Regions from separate parts of the Homo sapiens genome. Here all the other regions are linked to region 3. The links come from fine-mapping of genetic effects on gene expression. A gene starts in region 3. Each other region holds a variant in brackets. All regions are shown on one strand. Distances are between the middles of the regions.

Region 1 (7,751 bases), 150 kb after region 3:
TGTGGAAAAAAACAAGATAAATAATTATTTCCCTTTACTGTTAGTTTATTATTTCAGAATAATGAATTGGAGACCTAGAAATTAAATGATAACCAAGTAGGTAATTGTCATTTTTTTCTGTACTTGTAAATTTATGGATCTTTATATATTTGATATGCGTGTGTGTTTTATGCTCAAAATTTCTTTGCTCTGTGAGTCCTCTTCAGCCAGTGAGTCAATTTGAGTTGGTTTCTATGTTATTCTAGCATGACCCTGGTAGTTTCTGACAGCTTTCTTGATTTCTGGCATGATAGGTTCTCAGACTTATCTTGTACATTACTTGCCCAACTTAAAAGTGGTGTTTAGAGATCTGTGTGTTTGGTGTGCTTATTGCCACTGAGTTGTTATTATTCCCAAGCTTTTACAGTGGTCAGAGCTAATTAGTAAACATTTGTTTTTTAGAAAGAGAAAAGTAATTATTTTATTGTGATATTTTATATTCAAATGTAAGATTATAGGACTTTTATTTAATCATTTTGATTTTACAAGGGCATCTTTTTTCTTTTACACTGAATCATGATTCCTAATGATATTAATATATTATTTATTTTATCCGAATATACATAGTATTCAGGTTTTAAAAAATATACTTATATAGTAATTTCAAAATAACAATTATGTTGCTACTACTAATGGCATGACATTTAATGCAGTTTAAGATTTTGGGGGGGTTCTTTGTGTCCTTAGGATATATTCCACCACTGATGTACAATACAGATACTACATTTAAGCTATTCCATCAACTTTATGTACAATTAGGTTTATTTATTTATTTAAAACAGCTTGATTTTATCTTGCAGTTTTCACTTGTAGAATATACACCAATAAGGATATACAAATGATTGTCTTTTAAAGTCACTTGAAAAAAATAATTCTCTGTACAGATAATCTACCAACTTGTTGGTTAAATTTATTTGCTTTAGAGTTGCAAGGTACTTATTTTAATTTTTAATTTTTTTAAAAAAATTATTTGTAAAATCTGATAAGTAAATATTATAAATATGTTGTATAACATGTTTATATATATATGTATATGCAATGTGGAATGACTAAGCTATTTTACATAAGCATTACCTCACATACTTATTTCTTTGTGGTGAGAACGCTTAAATCTACTCACTTAGCAATTTTCAAATATATAGTATACTGTTATTAACTGTAGTCACCATGATATACAGTAGATCTCTTGAACTTATTTCTCCTGTCTAAACAAAATTTTGTTTCCTTTGACCGACATCTCCCCAATCTCTCCACCCCTCAGCCTCACTCTCTGTTTTTTTTTGTTGTTGTTTGTTTCAACTTATTTTAAGTTCAGGGGTACATGTGCGTTATGTGCAGGTTTGTTACATAGGGAAACATGTGCCATGGTGGATTGTTACAAAGATCATCCCATCACCAAGGTATTAAGCCCAGCATCCATTAGCTATTCTTCCTGATGCTCTCCCTTCCTGACACACTACCCCTGACAGGCCCCAGTGTGTGTTATTTCTTCCACCTAATGTGTCCATGTGTTCTCATCATTCAGCTCCCACTTATAAGTGAGAACATGAAGTGTTTGGTTTTCTGTTCCTGCTGAGGATAATAGCTTCCAGCTTGATCCATGTCCCTACAAAGGACATGATCTCATTCCTTTTTATGGCTACATAGTATTCCACAGTGTATATGTACCACATTTTCTTTATCCAGTCCACTATTGATGGACACCAAGGTTGATTCTACATCTTTGCTATTGTGAAGAGTGCTGCAATGAACATATGTGTGCATGTATCTTTATAATAGAATGATTTATATTCCTTTGGGTATATACCCAGTAATGGGAGTGCTGGGTTGTATAGTATTTCTGCCTTTAGGTCTTTGAGGAGTCACCACACTGTCTTCCACATGGTTGAATTAATGTACACTCCTACCAACAGTGTAAAAGTGTTCCTTTTTCTCCACAACCTTGATAGCATCTGTTGTTTTTTGACTGTTTTTCCTTTTCTTAACAATTTGGTATTATGTTTTTTGACTTTTTTTCTTTTTTGAGACAGAGTCTCGCTCTGTTGCCCAGGCTGGAGTGCAGTGGAGTGATCTTGGCTCACTGCAAGCTCCACCTCCCGGGTTCATGCCATTCTCCTGCCTCAGCCTCCTGAGTTTTTTGACTTTTTAATAATCACCATTCTGACCGGCATGAGATGGTATCTCATTGCAGTCTTGATTTGCATTTCTCTAATGATCAATGATGTTAAGCTTTTCTTTTCATATGTTTGTTGGCCACATGTATGTATTCTTTTGAAAAGTGTCTGTTCATGTCCTTTGCCCACTTTTTAATGGGGTTGTTTGTTTTGCTTATAGATTTGTTTAAGTTCCTTGTAGACTCTAGATATTAGGCCTTTGTCAGATGGATAGATCTACAAAAATTTTCTCCTATTCTGTAGGTTGTCTGTTTGCACTGACTGTATTAGTCTGTTCTCACGCTGCTAATAAAGACATCCAAGACTGGGTCTATAAGGAAAAAGAAGTTTAATGGACTCACAGTTCCACACGGCTGATGAGACCTCACAATCATGGTGGAAGGTGAAGGAAGAGCAAAGCAACATCTTACATGGTGGCAGGCAAGAGAGAATATGCAGGGCAACTGCCCTTTATAAAACCATCAGATCTTGTGAGACTTATTTCCTATCATGAGAACAGCATGGGAAAAACCCATTCCCATGATTCAATTACTTCCCATTGGGCCCCTCCCACAACATGTGGAGATTATGGGAACTACAATTCAAAATGAGATTTGGGTGAGGACAGAGCCAAACCATATTATTCTGTCCCTGGCCCCTCCCAAATCTCATGTCCTTACATTTTGAAACCAATCATGCCTTCCCAACCATCCCCCAAAGTCTTAACTCATTTCAGCATTAACTCAAAAGTCCATAGTCCAAAGTCTCATCTGAGACGAGGCAAGTCCCTTTTGCCTGTGAGCCTGTAAAATCAAAAACAAGTAAGTTACTTCCTAGATACAATGAGGGTACAGGCATTTGGTAAATACACCCATTCCAAATGGGAGAAAACAGTCAAAACAAAGGGTCTATAGATCCCACGCAATTCCAAAATCCAATAGGACAGTCATTAAACTTTAAAGTTCCAAAATGATTTCCTTTGACTCCATGTCTCACATCCGGGTCATGCTGATGCAAGAGGTGGGCTCCCACATCCTTGGGCAGCTCTGTCCCTGTGGCTTTGCAGGTTAGAGCCCCAGTCCTGGCTGCTTTCATGGCCTGGCATTGAGTGTCTGTGGCTTTTCCAGGTGCATGGTGCAAGCTGTTGGTTGATCTAACATTCTGGGTTCTGGAGGACTGTGGCCCTCTTCTCACAGCTCCACTAGGCGGCGCCCCAGTAGGGACTCTGTGTGGGACCTCCAACCTCACATTTGCCTTCCTCACTGCCCTGGCAGAGGTTCTGCATGGGGGCCCTGCCCCTGCAGCAAAC[T/C]TCTGCCTGAATATCCAGGGGTTTCCACACATCTGAAATTTAGGTGGAGGTTCCCAAGCCTCAATTATTGACTTCTGTGTACCTGAAGGCTCAACACCACGTGGAAGCTGCCAAGGCTTGAGGCTTGCACCCACTGAAGCCACTGCCTGAGCCATACCTTGGCCCCTTTTAGCCATGGCTGGAATGGCAGAGACACAGGGCACCAAGTCCCTAGCTGCACACAGCAGGGGAGTCCTGGGCCCAGCCTGTGAAATCAGTTTTTCCTCTTAGGCCTCCAGGCCTGTGATGGGATGGGCTGCCTGGAAGGTCTCCGACATGCCCTGGAGACATTTTCACCATTGTCTTGGTGATTAACATTTGGCTCCTTGTTACTTATGCAAATTTCTGCAGCACGTTTGAATTTCTCCCCAGAAAATGGGTTTTTGTTTTCTATTGCATCGTCAGGCTGCAAATTTTCCAAACTTTTATATTTTGTTTCCTCTAGAACACTTTGCTGCTTAGAAATTTCTTCTGCCAGATAGCCTAAATCATCAGTCTCAAGTTCAAAGCTCCACAGATCCTAGGGCAGGGGCAAAATTTCACCAGTCTGTTTGCTACTAAAGTGTAACAAGAGTCACCTTTACTCCATTTCCCAACAAGTTCCTCATCTCCATCTGAGACCGCTACCTTAGTCTGGACTTTATTGTTCATATTACTATTAGCATTTTGGTCAAAGCCATTCAACAAGTCTCTAGGAAGTTCCAAACTTTTTCACATCTTCCTGTCTTCTGAGCCATCCAAACTCTAGGAAGTTCCAGACTTTCCCACATTTCTGTGTTTTCTTCTGAGCACTCCACCCACACTGCTCCAACCTCTGTCTGTTATCCAGTTCCAAAGCTGCTTTCATATTTTTAGGTATTCTTACAGCACCACCCCACTCTACTGGTACCAATTTACTGTATTAGTCCATTTTCATGATGCTAATAAAGACATACCTGAGACTGGGTAATTTATAAAGAAAAACAGGTTTAAGGGGCTCATTGTTGAAAATGGGTGGGGAGGCCCTGCAATCATGGCAGAAGGTGAAGGAGGGACAAAGGCACATCTTACATGGTGGCAGACAAGAGAGCATGGGTAGGGGAACTGCCCTTTATAAAACCATCAGATCCTGTGAGATTTATTTACTATCACAAGAACAGCATGGGAAAAACCTGCTCCCATGATTCAATTACCTCCCACCAGGTCCCTCCCATGACATGTGGGGATTATGGGAACTACAATTCAAGATGAGATCTGGCTGTGTCCTACTGATGATAGTTTCTTTTGCTGTGCAGAAGCTCTTTAGTTTAATTAGATCCCATTTGTCAATTTTTGCTTTTGTTGCAATTCCTTTTTGTATTTTCATCATGAAATCTTTACCTGTGCCTATGTCCTGAATGGTATTCTCTATATTTTTTCCAGGGTTTTTATAGTTTTGGGTTTCACATTTAAGTCTTTAATCTATTGCTTTAATCTATTTTGAGTTAATTTTTGTATATGGTGTAAAGAAGGGGTCCAGTTCCAATTTCCTGGATATGGCTAGCCAGCACTCCCAGCACCATTTGTTGAATGGGGAGTCCTTTCCCCATTGCTGATTTTGTCAAGTTTGTTGAAGATCAGATGGTTGTAGGTTTGTGGCCTTATTTCTGAGTTCTCTGTTCTGTTCCATTGGTCTATGTGTCTGTTCTTATAACAGCACCATGCTGTTTGGGTTGCTGTAGTCTTGTAGTATAGGTTGCAATCTGGTAGTGTGATGCCTCCAGGTTTGTTTTTGTTTTTTGTTTTTTGCTTAGGATTATCTTGGCTGCTTGGACCCTTTTTTGGCTCCATATGAATTTTAAAATCTTTTTTTAAATTCTGTGAATAATGTCAGTGGTTGTTTAATGGGAATAGCATTTAATTTATTAACAATTAATAAATTGTTTTTGGGAGTATGGCCATTTTCACAATATTGATTCTCCCTATCCATGAGCTGGAATTTTCTCCATTTGTTTGTGTCCTGTCTAATTTCTTTGAGCAGTGGTCTGTATTTCTCTTTGAAGAGGTCCTTCACTTCCCTTGTTACCTCTATTCCTAGGTATTTTATTCTCTTTATAACAATTGTGAATGGGAGTTCATTCATGATTTGGCTCTCTGCTTACCTGTTGTTGATTTATAGGAATGCTAGCAGTTTTTGCACATCGATTTTATATCCTGAGACTTTGCTGAAGTTGTTTATCAGTTTAAGAAGCATTTGGGCTGAGATGATGGAATTTTCTAGTTATAGGATCATGTCATCTGCAAATAAAGATAATTTGACTTCCTCTCTTTCTATTTGAATACTCTTTATTTCTTTCTCTTTCCTGATTGCCGTGGCCAGAACTTGCAATACTATGTTGAATAGGAGTGGTGAAAGAGGTCATCCTTGTCTTGTGCTGGTTTTCAAGGGGAATGCTTCCAGGTTTTGCCAATTCAGTATGATATTGGCTGTGAGTTTTTCATATATGTCTCTTAGTACTTTGAGGCATGTTCCTTCAATACCTAGTTTATTGAGGGTTTATTTATTTATTTATTTGAGACAGAGTCTCCCTCTGTCACCCAGGCTGGATTGCAGTGGCATGATCTCAGCTAGCTGTAACCTCTGCCTCCTGGGTTGAAGCCATTCTCCTGCCTCAGCCTCCTGAGTAGCTGACACTACAGGTGCCTGCCACCATGCCTGGCTAATTTTTGTATTTTTAGTAGACATGGGGTTTCACCATATTGGCCAGCCTGTTCTCAAACTCCTGACTTTGTGATCTGCCCACCTTGGCCTCCCAAAGTGCTGGGATTACAGGCATGAGCCACCATGCCCAGCTGTTTATTGAGAGTTTTTAACATGAAGGGATGTTGAATTTTATCAAAAGCCTTTTCTGCATCTATGAAGATAATCATGTGGTTTTTGTCGTTAGTTCTGTTTATGTGATGAATCACATTTATTGATTTGCATATGTTGAACCAACCTTGCATCCTGGGAATGAGGTCAACTGGATCATGGTGGATAAGCTTTTTGATGTGTTGCTGGATTCAGTTTGCAAGTATTTTGTTGAGGAGTTTTGCATTGAAGTTCATCAAGATGATTAGCCTGAAGTTTTCTTTTTTTTTTGTTGTGTCTCTGCCAGATTTTGGTATCAGAATATGCTGGCCTCATAGATTGAGTTAGTTGGGAGTCTCTCCCTTTCAATTTTTTGAAATAGTTTCATTAGAAATGGTACTAGTTCTTCTTTGTACCTCTGGTAGAATTCAGCTGTGAATTTGTCTGGTCCTGGGCTTATTTTGGTTGGTAGACTATATATTACTACTTCAGAACTCATAATTGTTGTGTTCAGGGATTCAGTTTCTTCCTGGTTCAGTCTTGGGAGGTGTATGTGTCCAGGAATTTATTAACTTCTAGATTTTCTAGTTTATGTGCATAGAGGTGTTTATAGTGTTCTCTGATGATTGTATTTCTGTGTGGTCAGTGGTGACATGCCCTTTATAATTGCTGATTGTGTTTAATGGATTCTTCTCTCTTTTCTTTTTTAATAGTCTAGCTAGCAGTCTATTTACTTTATTAATTAAAAAAAAACAGCTCCTGGATTCATTGATTTTTTTGAAGGGTTTTTAATGTCTCTGTTTCCTTCAATTCTGCTCTGATCTTGGTTATTTTCTGTCTTCTGCTGACTTTGGGGTTTGTTTGCTCTTGGTTCTCTAGTTCTTTTAGTTGTGATGCTAGCTTGTTAACTTGAGATTTTTCCAGCATTTTAAAAAAATTTTATTGTTATTATACTTTAAGTTTTAGGGTACATATGAGATTTTTCCAGCTTTTTGATGTGGGCATTTAGTGCTATGAATTTCCCTCTTAACACTGTTTTAGCTGTGACGGAGATTCTGGTATGTTCTCTCTTTGTTCTCATTAGTTTCAAATAACTTCTTGATTTCTGCCTTAATTTCATTGTTTACCCAAGAGTCATTCAGGGACAAGTTGTTCAATTTCCTTGTAATTGTGTGGTTTTCAGTGAATTTCTCAATCTTGAGTTCTAGTTTGATTGCATGGTGATCTGAGACACTGTTGTTATGATTTCAGTTCCTTTGCATTTGATGAGTGTTTTATTTCTGATTATGTGATCAATTTTAGAGTAAGTGCCATGTGGTGGTGAGAAGAATGTATATTCTTTGAATTTGGGTCAAGAGTTCTGTAGATATCTATCAGGTGCACTTGATCAGTTCAGGTCCTA
Region 2 (7,751 bases), 26 kb before region 3:
AACAGGATAACAATTATTACCAATAACATATAACAAGATCTATCAACATTTTAGCAATATGATACAATTTTGGGATGCATATTAATAACAGATTTATACAAATACAACTCAAAGAAAATTAAACAACATTTTTTATTTGATCAGCTTCCTGTATGATTTTAATATACCAAATTAGCCTAATATGTTTCTTTTGGACTTCCAGGGGCCCTATTTGGACTTCCAAGGGCTTTAATGCCCAAAAGTTAGCTTGAGGTCGAAAACATTTAAGTTAGAATTTTACATTTGATTTTGGGAAGTTTGTCAAATATCAAAGGTTTAAAACACTTGATCAAAATAAGATTACAGGTCACTGTAAGATAATAGTTATTCATTTAGCCAAACTGATAATTCAAAAATTTCAAAAAGCAAAAATTTTACTCTTTGACAGAGGGGAGATTCAGTTTTCCAAACAATCAAAAGACATAATAAAAACAGCATTAGGGAAATTCTCTCCTCTTATTACTAATATTTTTTGCAGTTTACTCAAAAGGTAAACAAAAATCTTTTACTATTTCTTATTAATGTATACAAAAATCTTGTTCAAAAGAGAAATCCAAATTCTAACTTTGTGCCAGTGTATTATAAATGCTAAAGCTAATTTTAATAAAGCCTTATAAACAGATCAATCCAATTGCAATTGTTTTCTTTTCCTTTTTTTGTTTTTTTTTGAGACAGGGTCTCACTTTGTCACCCAGGCTGGAGTGTAGTGGTGCAATCTTGGCTTACTGCAACCTTTGACTCCCGGGCTCAAGCAATTTTCCCATCTCAGTCCCCCAAGTAGCTGGGACTACAAGTGTGTACCATCATGCCCAGCTAATTCCTTTTGTACTTTGGTAGTGAGAGAGTTTCACTATGTTGCCCAGGATGGTCTCAAACTCCTGAGCTCAAGTGATCTGCCCATCTCAGCCTCCCAAAGTGCTGGGATTACAAGTGTGAGCTACTGCATCCAGCCTGCAATTGGTTTTGACTGCACAAGAAAAAACATAAAAAGGTTCCATGAACCTTTTATAACCTCTTATAATTGTTACGGTTTTATTTCTTTCCTCAATTTTCTATGTCCATTCAGTTTTAGGTCCTTAAAAAAATAGCAGAGATAGTGTAAACCTGTCTAACAAATAGACCCAGAAAAATATCTAAATTAAATTCAGAAAATGTTTCTATTTTATTTTACCCCAAATTTTAAACTATCTTCATTTACCACAGATTACTAATGCCCTGTGAACTTGAAAAGCGTTTGGGCTTATTTACTTAATTTATGAGTACTAATTTATTTATGTCAAGTTGGTACCATACAGGCAATCTATAAACATAGACACGTATCCATAAAATATAAACACAAATAAATACTTTATATCATTTTTTCTTTTTTTGAGACAGAGTTTCACTCTTATTGCCCAGGCTGGAGTGCAATGGTGCAATCTCGCCTCACTGCAACTTCCGTCGCCCGGGTTCAAGCCATTCTCTTGCCTCAGCCTCCCGAGTAGCTGGGATTACAGGTGTGTGCCACCATGCCTGACTAATTTTTGTATTTTTAGTAGAGATGGAGTTTCATCATGTTGGCCAGGCTGGTCTTGAACTCCTGACCTCAGGTGATCCATCCCCGCCTTGGTCTCCAAAAGTGATAGGATTACAGGCATGAGCCACTGCACCTGGCCTACATCTTTAAAATTTTAGCCACGAGACCAGTAAAACTCCTTAGTTTAAAAGGACAGTTGAATTCAAATGCAGCTTTGTAAATGGAAAGGTTACAGTTTGTCTGTCCTTCATGGCTGAAGATCTTACCAAGTTTTAAGAAAAACAGGATAGCAAATTTACATCTCAAAACAGAGAAAATTAAGCATTTTCAAGAAGAAGTTAGGGTATGTTAGAGAAAGATTAAAAATGGACAACAAGTGATATAGTTTGAGTATTTGTCCTCTTCAAATCTCATGTTGAAATGTTATCCCCAGTGTTGGAGGTTGGGTCAAGTAGGAGGTTTTTGGGTCATGGTGGCAGGTCCCTCATGAATGGCTGGGTTCTGTCCTTGTGGTAATGAGTGAGTTCTTATTCCATTAGCTCATGTGAGAGCTGGTTTTAAAAAGAGTCTAGTGTCTTTCTCACCTTTCTCTTGCTCCCTTTTTGGCCATGTGATATGCCTGCTCCTCCTCTTCGCCTTCCACCATGATTGTAAGCTTCTTTTTCTTTTCTTTCTTTCTTTCTTTTTTTTTTGAGATAGAGTATCACTCTGTTGCCCAGGCTGGAGTACAGTGGTGTGATCTCAGCTCACAGCAACCTCTGCCTCCCAAGTTCCAAGTGATCCTCTTGCCTCAGCCTCCTGAGTAGCAGGGATTCCAGACACATGCCACCATGCCCAGCTAATTTTTGTATTTTTAGTAGAGATGGGGTTTCACCATGTTGGCCAGCCTGGTCTCGAACTCCTGACCTCAAATGATCCATCTGTCTCCGCCTCCCGAAGTGCTGGCATTACAGGCATGAGCCACCGCACGCGGCCAATTGTAAACTTCTTGAGGTTGTCACCAGAAGCAGATGCTGGCATCATGCTTCTTGTACAGCCTGCAGAATAGTGAGCCAAATAAACTTTTCTTTATAAATCACCAAGCCTCAGGTATTCCTTTATAGCAACACAAAACAGACAAACACACCAATGTGACACAAAATTATAGAAATTCACATAGGATGTTACAATGAAAGATACAAATGAGCAGAGAGGAAATTCAGAAGCCTTTTAAAAATAACTAGCTAAGCCCGGGCAACATGGTATATAACTTTGTCTCTACAAAAGCAACAAAATTAGCCAGGCATGGTGGCGTGTGCCTGTAATAGCAGCTACTTGAGAGGCTGAGGTAGGAGGATGAGGACATTGCTTGAGCCCAGGAAGTTGAGGCTGCAGTGAGCTGTGATTGTGTGACTGCATTCCAGCCTGGACAACAGATTAAGACCCAGTCTGATATGGTTTGGATATTTGTCCCCACCCAAATCTCATGTTGAAATGTAATAACTGGTGGGAGGTATTTGGATCATGGGGGCAGGTCCCTCATGAATGGCTAGGGCTGTCCCCTTGGTGCCAAGTGAGTTTTTGCAAGATCTGGTCATTTTAAAGTATGTGGCACCTCCCCCCATACTCTCTTTCTCTTATTCCTGCTTTTGCTGTGAGATGTGCCTCCTCCCCCTTTTCCTTTCACCATGATTGTAAGCTTCCTAAGGACTCTCCAGAAGCAAATGCTGGCACTATGCCTCTTGTACAGCCTGCAGCACTGTGAACCAACTAAACCTCTTATAAATTACCCAGTCTCAGGAATTTCTTTATAGTAACTCAAGAATGGCCTAATACACTGTCTCAAAAAACAAAAACAAAAACAAAACGAAACAAAAAATACAGAAAACCCTACCAAAAACAAAAACAAACACCTAAATGTCAGAAAGTCATATTTTGGAGACCAATCTAGTCATATAGGTGGCTTCTAATTTAGTATCTGTTTTCTACTTAGACCACTGAGTTCTGGGCAGAGCCCATTAAGGAACAGGGCAAACAAAGCATTTGCAGTTTTTAGGGCCTAATATTTGTATATGTAAAAAGTAGGCACAGCTGGAAGACAGAGCATCTAGATTTTTAAAAATCAAGGATTCTACTTTTACACTGAACCCTGGGTCCCCCACAAAAGAGGGAAACACCAAAGGACTGGGCTGCACAGTGTTTCCAGAGTACACCTCACTACAAAGATGTCACCCTGAGGCTGGTGGGGGTGTGTGAGGCATTAGTGAGAGTGACAGATTGTGTGTCAGGTATTAGTGGGTGGGAGACCCATATCAATCAGCCCATTCTGTGATCAGCCC[A/G]TCCACCATGGGATAGTTATTCCTTGGTGGTGAGTATTCCCACAGTCTCCATGTATTCAACTATGTCTTTTTTATAGAATAGAGCAAAGCAACAAGTAGCCTACATACAGTAATAACTATTAATTGCAACCACTGTCAGCTACCTCCAAAACTGCAGCCCTCACCAGTGACCCACCAGCCATTGCATACACAAGGTCAAATTCTCTAATAGGTCAAAGTAATTCCTTGAACCCCCAAAGCCAAAGAGACCAGGTAATGCAATGCAAAGGAGAGTGGAGCTTTAGACCTGATAAGAACTTGCCCATGACTCTTCAGACTCCACAGGAAGACAGAAGATCATTCCCATAAAGTGGGTGAGTGGTAGCTTTTCTATGTTTCTTTTTATTTATTTATTATTTTATTTATTTATTTATTTATTTATTTTTATTGATTATTCTTGGGTGTTTCTCGCAGAGGGGGATTTGGCAGGGTCATAGGACAATAGTGGAGGGAAGGTCAGCAGATAAACAAGTGAACAAAGGTCTCTGGTTTTCCTAGGCAGAGGACCCTGCGGCCTTCCGCAGTGTTTGTGTCCCTGGGTACTTGAGATTAGGGAGTGGTGATGACTCTTAACGAGCATGCTGCCTTCAAGCATCTGTTTAACAAAGCACATCTTGCACCGCCCTTAATCCATTTAACCCTGAGTGGACACAGCACATGATTCAGAGAGCACAGGGTTGGGGGTAAGGTCACAGATCAACAGGATAAGAATTTTTCTTAGTACAGAACAAAATGAAAAGTCTCCCATGTCTACCTCTTTCTACGCAGACACAGCAACCATCCGATTTCTCAATCTTTTCCTCACCTTTCCCCCCTTTCTATTCCACAAAACCGCCATTGTCATCATGGCCCGTTCTCAATGAGCTGTTGGGTACACCTCCCAGACGGGGTGGTGGCCGGGCAGAGGGGCTCCTCACTTCCCAGTAGGGGCGGCTGGGCAGAGGCGCCCCTCACCTCCCGGACGGGGCGGCTGGCCGGGCGGGGGGCTGACCCCCCCACCTCCCTCCCGGACGGGGCAGCTGGCCTGGCGGGGGCTGACCCCCACCTCCCTCCCGGACGGGGTGGCTGCTGGGCGGAGACGCTCCTCACTTCCCAGACGGGGTGACTGCCGGGCGGAGGGGCTCCTCACTTCTCAGACGGGCGGTTGCCAGGCGGAGGGTCTCCTCACTTCTCAGACGGGGCGGCCGGGCAGAGACGCTCCTCACCTCCCAGACAGGGTCGCGGCCGGGTAGAGGCGCTCCTCACATCCCAGGCGGGGCGGCGGGGCAGAGGCTCTCCCCACATCTCAGACAATGGGCGGCCGGGCAGAGACGCTCCTCACTTCCTAGATGGGATGGCGACCGGGAAGAGGCGCTCGTCACTTCCTAGATGGGATGGCGGCCGGGCAGAGATGCTCCTCACTTTCCAGACTGGGCAGCCAGGCAGAGGGGCTCCTCACGTCCCAGGCGATGGGCGGCCAGGCAGAGACGCTCCTCACTTCCCAGACGGGGTGGCGGCCGGGCAGAGGCTGCAATCTCGGCACTTTGGGAGGCCAAGGCAGGCGGCTGGGAGGTGGAGGTTGTAGCGAGCCGAGATCACGCCACTGCACTCCAGCCTGGGCACCATTGAGCACTGAGTGAACCAGACTCCGTCTGCAATCCCGGCACCCCGGGAGGCCGAGGCTGGCGGATCACTCGTGGCTAGGAGCTGGAGACCAGCCCGGCCAACACAGCGAAACCCCGTCTCCACCAAAAAAATACGAAAACCAGTGAGGCGTGGCGTCGCGCGCCTGCAATTGCAGGCACTGGGCAGGCTGAGGCAGGAGAATCAGGCAGGGAGGTTGCAGTGAGCCGAGATGGCAGCAGTACAGTCCAGCTTCGGCTCGGGAGAGGGGGAGGGGGAGGGGGAGGGGGAGGGAGAGGGTTTTCTATGTTTCTTACAGGGTCTTTAGATGTTCCCACAGATCCTTTTATGTGATATTCAAGACAGCAAAGAGAAAGGAGGAACAAAAAGCCAATGAAGTTTTACGCTTTTCTTAACAAAAATCATACCACAAGAAATGAAGCATACAAAAAGACCAAATATACAATTAAAAGAAGTTTCAGTAAACTAGAAAAATCCTCAGAAATAGGATCCCAAAGAAAAAAGGCAGAAAGGCCTTTAAATATATATATTTATATAAATATATTTTTGCATATTTATATACATATATTTATATAAATATATTTTTGCATATTTATATACACATATATTTATATATTGTAATAATACATTTATATATTATAATATATAATATAAAAATATTTTATCTATTATATATTTTATAATATTTATATATTATATGTTATATATAATATATAACATAATATTATACATTTATATAATATATAAATAAAATATAATATATAAATATATAACAATATATTTATAATATAATATAATATAAATTAAATATAAATTAAATATATTTCTATAAATATATAGGTATATATTTATATAAATATATAACTATATTAAATATATACCTATATATTTAATATAGTTATAATATAATATAATATAAATATATGTATATTATATATTTATGTATATAACGATATATTCAACATATATGTTGAATATTAGCTTCTAATTAAGCTGACTTCTGATCATAGAGCTTTTTAAAAATATATTTTCAGATCTTTTATTATTGGATTTTGGCTAGGACAAATAGCTAATATTCCTGACTTTTAAACTTTTTTATGAAAGGTAACTTTGCAAGTGACTCAACAATTTAACTAAGGACACATGAGGTGTCTCCAAAGAGGTAAAAAGCAGTCCTCACAAGATGCAGATGCACTGAAAGACAGTTCAAAGAAAATAAAGTTTCAGTAGCCGCAAACGGGATTCAACCCACATCTGTCCAGCCATATTCTCTAGTGTCTCAACTTCTCAGCTGACTGTCTACACACAAAGGCCCAAAAGCCTCATACGCCCCCACAGATGGAAGGAGGCAGAAAATCAAAAGCTGTCCATGAAACAGAAAATGATCAACAACAAATGGGTACCCCAAAAAGCCAAAAGTCACACAAATATCAGACCAAAAGGTACTGGTTCCCTGACTGGTAATCAAACCCAGACCACAGTAGTGAAAGCACAGAATTTTAATTACTGGACTGAAAGGTGGAGCAGCTTTATTGTGAATCCTACAGACAGTTTGAGCACATATGTTATTGTGGGGAAAAGAAAGAGAGATCAGATTGTTACTGTGTCTGTGTAGAAAGAAGTAGACATAGGAGACTCCATTTTGTTCTGTACTAAGACAAATTCTTTTGCCTTGAGATGCTGTTAATCTATAACCTTACCCCCAACCCCGTGCTCTCTGAAACATGTGATGTGTCAACTTACGGTTAAATGGATTAAGGGCGGTGCAAGATGTGCTTTGTTAAACAGATGCTTGAAGGCAGCATGCTCATTAAGAGTCTTCACCACTCCCTAATCTCAAGTACCCAGGGACCTCTGCCTAGGAAAGCCAGGTATTGTCCAAGGTTTCTCCCCATGTGATAGTCTGAAATATGGCCTCCTGGGAAGGGAAAGACCTGACCATCCCCCAGCCCAACACCCGTAAAGGGTCTGTGCTGAGGAGGATTAGTATAAGAGGAAGGCATGCCTCTTTGCAGTTGAGACAAGAGGAAGCCATCTGTCTCCTGCCCGTCCCTGGGCAATGGAATGTCTCGGTATAAAACCCGATTGTATGTTCCATCTACTGAGATGGGGGAAAACTGCCTTAGGGCTGGAGGTGGGACATGCGGGCAACAATACTGCTTTGTAAGGCATTGAGATGTTTATGTGTATGCATATCTAAAGCACAGCACTTAATT
Region 3 (5,000 bases):
CACAGAAATTTCAAATGCAAACTGGTTTTACTTATGTAGCTTAAACAAATGCCAATTGTTGAACTTTGTGCTGGCTCTTTAATATCAGTTCTCTTTTTTCTTCCAGTTAATGTTGATTAGCATCAGCTCATTTAGTCAGTTAACATTTATTTCCTAAAATCAAACACTCTTGATTGGTCAGCCTGGGAGAAGAGGGCTAAGATTAAGGTTAGTGATGGTTCCCTTAAAACCTGTCGAGTGTCTGCATTGTTAGACACACTGAAATCTAAGAATCCCATCTCTCTGGGGCTGTTCACTTTACTAATAATTATTTATAAAAGGGAAGCTGAGACAATAAATTGCCAATAACCATGTAACATAATAACCACAATGAAAAGACATTAAAGCTACCTTTTCTGTAGCCTGATTTTACCTAGATGGTGGGTTTTGGTAACAAGCCATCACTAGAGGTCAGTTTTTGATTACATGTCTTCTCAGGTTCAGCCTATGTTTTGATTTTTGGCTACTGGGCACCTCTCTGGTTTTTAGGCTTTAAAGCAGATCCAAATGTTATATTATAGTCTTGTAAATGTTTCATCCTTTTTGCTTCTGATAGATTAGAACTCTAATTATTAAAAACTATTTTTAAGCATTTGTGACTACAAAAACTCCTAAACTTCAAATGGTTTAAATTTTGATGTTTATTTTAATTTTAAAATATTTTAAAAATTATTCAATAATAGAACAATCTGTAATGAAAACTTACACATATGTGAGAGGTACTATTTTAAGATGAGAGTTTGCAGGTCAAATTAGTCAGGGAGGAAAGAGTAGAAGTCAGAGTGGGAAAGGCCCTTAAAACTTAATAGGGAATATCAAATCTCTACAAAAATTTTATTCAAGACAGTGTCTAAGACTTAGAAGCAACTAACTTAAAAGCAAACTTTTGGAACTTAATCCTATTTTCATTGGGGACTCCGTTTATGAATAATATGCTGTAATTATACGTAGAAGCTTAAGGACTGAAACAGAGCATTCCAAATGACAAATGTTTTCTCCTGAAGAAATGGCACCCAAATTATGTTGTACAAGTAAGCGGAATAAAATAATCATATGCTTGTTATTAAAATTATCATATGCCTAACATTCATGATTTTCAAAAGTGAAAAACAGTATGTTATCTTTGAGTTTGTTTTCATGTGATATAAATTTATAAGCAAGTCAAAATTAAATAATGTACTGAGCATTAATTTAAGCCAGGATTTTTCAGCCTCAGCACTATTGACATTTGGGGCTGGATAATGCTTCGTCGTGAGGGGCTGTGTAGTGTGAGGTGTTCAGTAATATCCCTGGCCCCAACCCATTAGATAGGTCCCCTCTCCAATTGTGACAACCAAAATGTCTCTAGACATTGCCAAATATCCCTCGGAACTAAATTGTCCCCAGTTGGGAACCACGAATTATTAATCCCTAAAAGACAAAGCAGCAACTCCTGACCCCTACAAAAAGTTTTAAATCAATAACTTAGTTTAAAATCCTTACTAAGTGGGATCATTACTAATCTCACTTCATTGTACCTTCAGTATCTGGAAACCGTCCCTATGGTCACACTTACCACGGCTCATTATTATTTTAAAACATGGGGCTGTGTCATTTCCTGTCTGTGAGTTTGGACTGCAGTGGGAATCCATTAGTTGAATGACCTTCTGTGTAGGTTAATCACAAGACAAGTTCTCAAACTAAGGGTTTCCCTGCGGCTCATTTCTTTTTAAAGTTATGGAATACCTGTTCTGCTTATACCTTTTAGATTCATAATTATTTTTCTTGTATCAAAATTTCAATTAATAGAAATAAATGACGTTACTGACACTTCATGATGATTAAGTTTTGGGCAAGTGAACCATTTTACACTCTATTTTTTATTCCTCCCACTTTTAGTCAGAATACACCTGCAGAATAAGTAACAGAACTGTGTGAAAAGAACGACTAGGTCATTACGGTTAATAGTTTTAGAAAAACAGCCGAGGCCTGGTCTGGAAAGCTCACAACCTCCACCCAGATGCTTTCCAGCCTCGGGGATATTCGTACTAGCAGTGACACTAGCCAGCTTCCTCTAGGCTGGCTCTGATGTTGGAAGACAAGCACGCAGATGTGTGTTACTTTTCAAGCCTGGACATCGTTTCTGAGGAATTTAACTCCACCTCTCCTGCCAGAATGGAAAATCAACGCCCCCCATTCCCGCCCTTCACCAACCCCTCTCCGCCTGCCCCTTTCCCTTGGGTCCTCTCTGTTACAGAAGTTCTGATTTTTCCTAGCGAGCTGGAGGAAAGGCAGGTACCCGGAGTGGAGTTATATTACCTGTTTCTTTGTTCTGATGGGACCCCAGAGAGGACATCACGCTTTGTAACTGGTTCTTCAAGGGGAGAAGCAAATGTGTCCCTGAAAACTTCAGCTGCCGCGTTTGGCACCAGGTTTGATTGACAAGGACTGGCGGAGGGAAAGCGCGGAGGCTGGGCTGGGGGCCGCAGGCCGAGGCAGAGACAAAGAGGTTTCGCCTGTCCCCGAGAGTGGAAGGGCCCCTGGGGGTAACTAGCCTTTGAGCTCAAAGGGGCATTTCGTGAGGTCGCCTTTTGGTTCGGAGAGCGCGCGGCGATCGGGTGGAGGGGGCCTGGCGGGAAGAAAGCTGGGGCGGGGAAGGGGCGCGGGCCGAGGTGGGAGCGGAGCTGCAGTCACGTGGCCGCCCGCCGCCGCGGAGTTGGGGCTGTTCTTCCGGGTTGGAGGCGCAGCGCCGCGGGGCCCAAGCCCGGGTCTGCCAGCGCGACGTCCTCTCGCGGCCCTCAGGGCACAGCCCAAGGCTGTCAGCCTCCCGGCCCAGGTGAGCGCGACGGCACTGGCGGGTGCGGGCAGCCGGGGCGCGCGCCTAGGGCGCAGCTGGGAAAGGGGCTCGGGCCTTTCCTGAAGACCACGGCCCTCGCCGGGAGAGAGACCTGTCAAAGAGCAAAGCGGGGCGGGGTCGGCGGTGTCCCGGGCGCAGGGTGCATTGGGGTGTCCGCAGGCCGCAGGCTTAGGTGGGGAAGAAGCACCGTGCCTCTTGGTGTCCCTTTCTCGTCTCCTGCTGGGGCGATGTCGAAGGGAGTGGGCTGGTGGATTTGGGAACTGGGTCCCCGAAGAGGGCAGGGAATGAGGCGGCAGCTGTGCAGGTGCAGATATTTGCAGCTTTGGGGGACAGCGAGAGTCGTACGGGGTCATTTCGGCCCTCAAGATCGGGGGTGGTGGAGAGGGAGGTCATAGAGGACTTTCGATGGGCGGTTCATCCAGAGAGGTGGCAGCTGGATGCCCTTGAGGTATGCTTGACCCTTGAGGGAGTTCGGAGAGGGTGTCCGGCTGGGGACATAGGAGATTGCGAGCACAAATTGTGAGTGTGAGTTGGGGCGGTCTGGCGGTGGTGGGTACAAGTTTCTGGGGCCTAGGCTGGTGAGGAGGAAGAGACAGCGGAGAGGGCGACCTGGGCAGAGCTAGTTCAAACTCAACAGCCGGAATGACTATTTGCAGCCGTGGCCAATCGGCTTCCTAGGGAGGTTATAAATAGCGGTCTCGTGCAGATGCCAGCGGGTGGCAGTTAGTTGCCGAGCAAGGGACGGCACCGGTGGCAGTAGCCGTGACACCAGTGGCTTTGGGTGAGGTCACGGCGCCTGCCAGCCGAAGCTGGCTCAGTAGGGTATTGTGTCCTTGCTGGTATGTCTCGCTTTTAAAAGCGTGACTTGTTTATGGTTGCCGGTGTCCTTTATTCACCCTGTGGCGCCGGCCAGTCCTTAGGTGGTCTGTTTGTCAGGAGTCTTGTAGGACAGACTTATTCGGAGAAGCGCGTGGGGCTTAGGTGCCTACCTACTCTTCTTATTTAAAGTGTGCCCCTTTTCTTCATTGCACCCCTTTTATTTGTAAACCTTGACTTTTTATTAACAGACAGTTTAGGATTGCCTTCTTTCCAGCAGGTGCGCTTAGGCTGCTTACCTTGGTGATAGAATCAGTTTTCCACAAGGCTACACAAACATTTCCTTTTCAAAGGAAATTTTCCGAAAATCCTTGGAAAATGTGCTCAATAGGTACTTAGGCTTAAGGTCACCTAGCCCTATTCATTCAGTCAAAAATACTGACTTCCTCTGTGTTGTGCAAAGCACTGGGGGAGAGTAATACCAAAGTGAATATAACAGCTGATAAGGATATTCTCAGTCCTGGCAACAACCCTGAGAGGTAGGTGCTGTTATTTTATTTTTTCAAGTCTCGCTCTGTTGTCCAAGCTGGAGTACAGTGGCACAATCACGGCTTACTGCAGCCTGGAACTCCTGGGCTCAAGTGATTCTCCCACCTCAGACTCCCAAGTAGCTGGGACTTCAGGCTTGCACCACCATGCCCTGCTAATTAATTTTTTTTTTTTAGCAATGGGGGTCTCACTGTGTTGGCCAGGCTAGTCTTGAATTCTTGGCCTCAAGCAGTCCTCCCCACTAGCCTCCCAAAGAGATGGCATTATAGGCGTGAGCCACCACCCTGGGTGGGTGCTATTATTCCCCATTTTAAAGATGAGGAAATTAAGTACAGGGAAGTTAAGTGACTTCCCAAGGTCACACAGCCAATAAGTTGCAGAGTGGGGCTTCCAATCCGCAGATCCAGAGCTGACTCTCTTAAATATCTGTGGTATCCTCCCTCTTTAGGTTGGGTGCTTTCCCTCAAGGATTTTAATATCTAATAGGGGAAATAACCCATATAAGTTACATTAAACATACATATGAAAGCAATGCTTAAAAAGTTGTGCTTTTGGGCCGGGCGCGGTGGCTCACGCCTGTAATCCCAGCACTTTGGGAGGCCGAGGCGGGTGGATCATGAGGTCAGGAGATCGAGACCATCCTGGCTAACAAGGTGAAACCCCGTCTCTACTAAAAATACAAAAAATTAGCCGGGCGCGGTGGCGGGCGCCTGTAGTCCCAGCTACTCGGGAGGCTGAGGCAGGAGAATGGCGTGAACCC

What was found.
Region 1: its variant is fine-mapped to the expression of NNT in whole blood (INTERVAL, PIP 0.95).
Region 2: its variant is fine-mapped to the expression of NNT in whole blood (INTERVAL, PIP 0.92).

What each region holds. Positions count from the first base shown.
Region 1 is chr5:43,749,877-43,757,627 of GRCh38, forward strand. No RefSeq gene overlaps it. Among named protein-coding and RNA genes, the nearest start is that of NNT-AS1, 150 kb to the left of the region's middle. The variant T/C (reference allele first, on the strand shown) is at 3,502.
Region 2 is chr5:43,573,344-43,581,094 of GRCh38, forward strand. It overlaps NNT-AS1 (NNT antisense RNA 1), which reads right to left. Exons shown (of 3, transcript NR_073113.1): 3 at 1-2,592. Among named protein-coding and RNA genes, the nearest start is that of PAIP1, 20 kb to the left of the region's middle. RefSeq lists an enhancer at 7,149-7,751. The variant A/G (reference allele first, on the strand shown) is at 3,874.
Region 3 is chr5:43,600,441-43,605,440 of GRCh38, forward strand. It overlaps NNT (nicotinamide nucleotide transhydrogenase), which reads left to right and starts at 2,740. Exons shown (of 22, transcript NM_182977.3): 1 at 2,740-2,854. It overlaps NNT-AS1 (NNT antisense RNA 1), which reads right to left and starts at 2,790. Exons shown (of 3, transcript NR_073113.1): 1 at 2,338-2,790. RefSeq lists an enhancer at 764-933, a cis regulatory region at 849 and silencers at 2,088-2,307, 2,571-2,660, 2,781-3,000.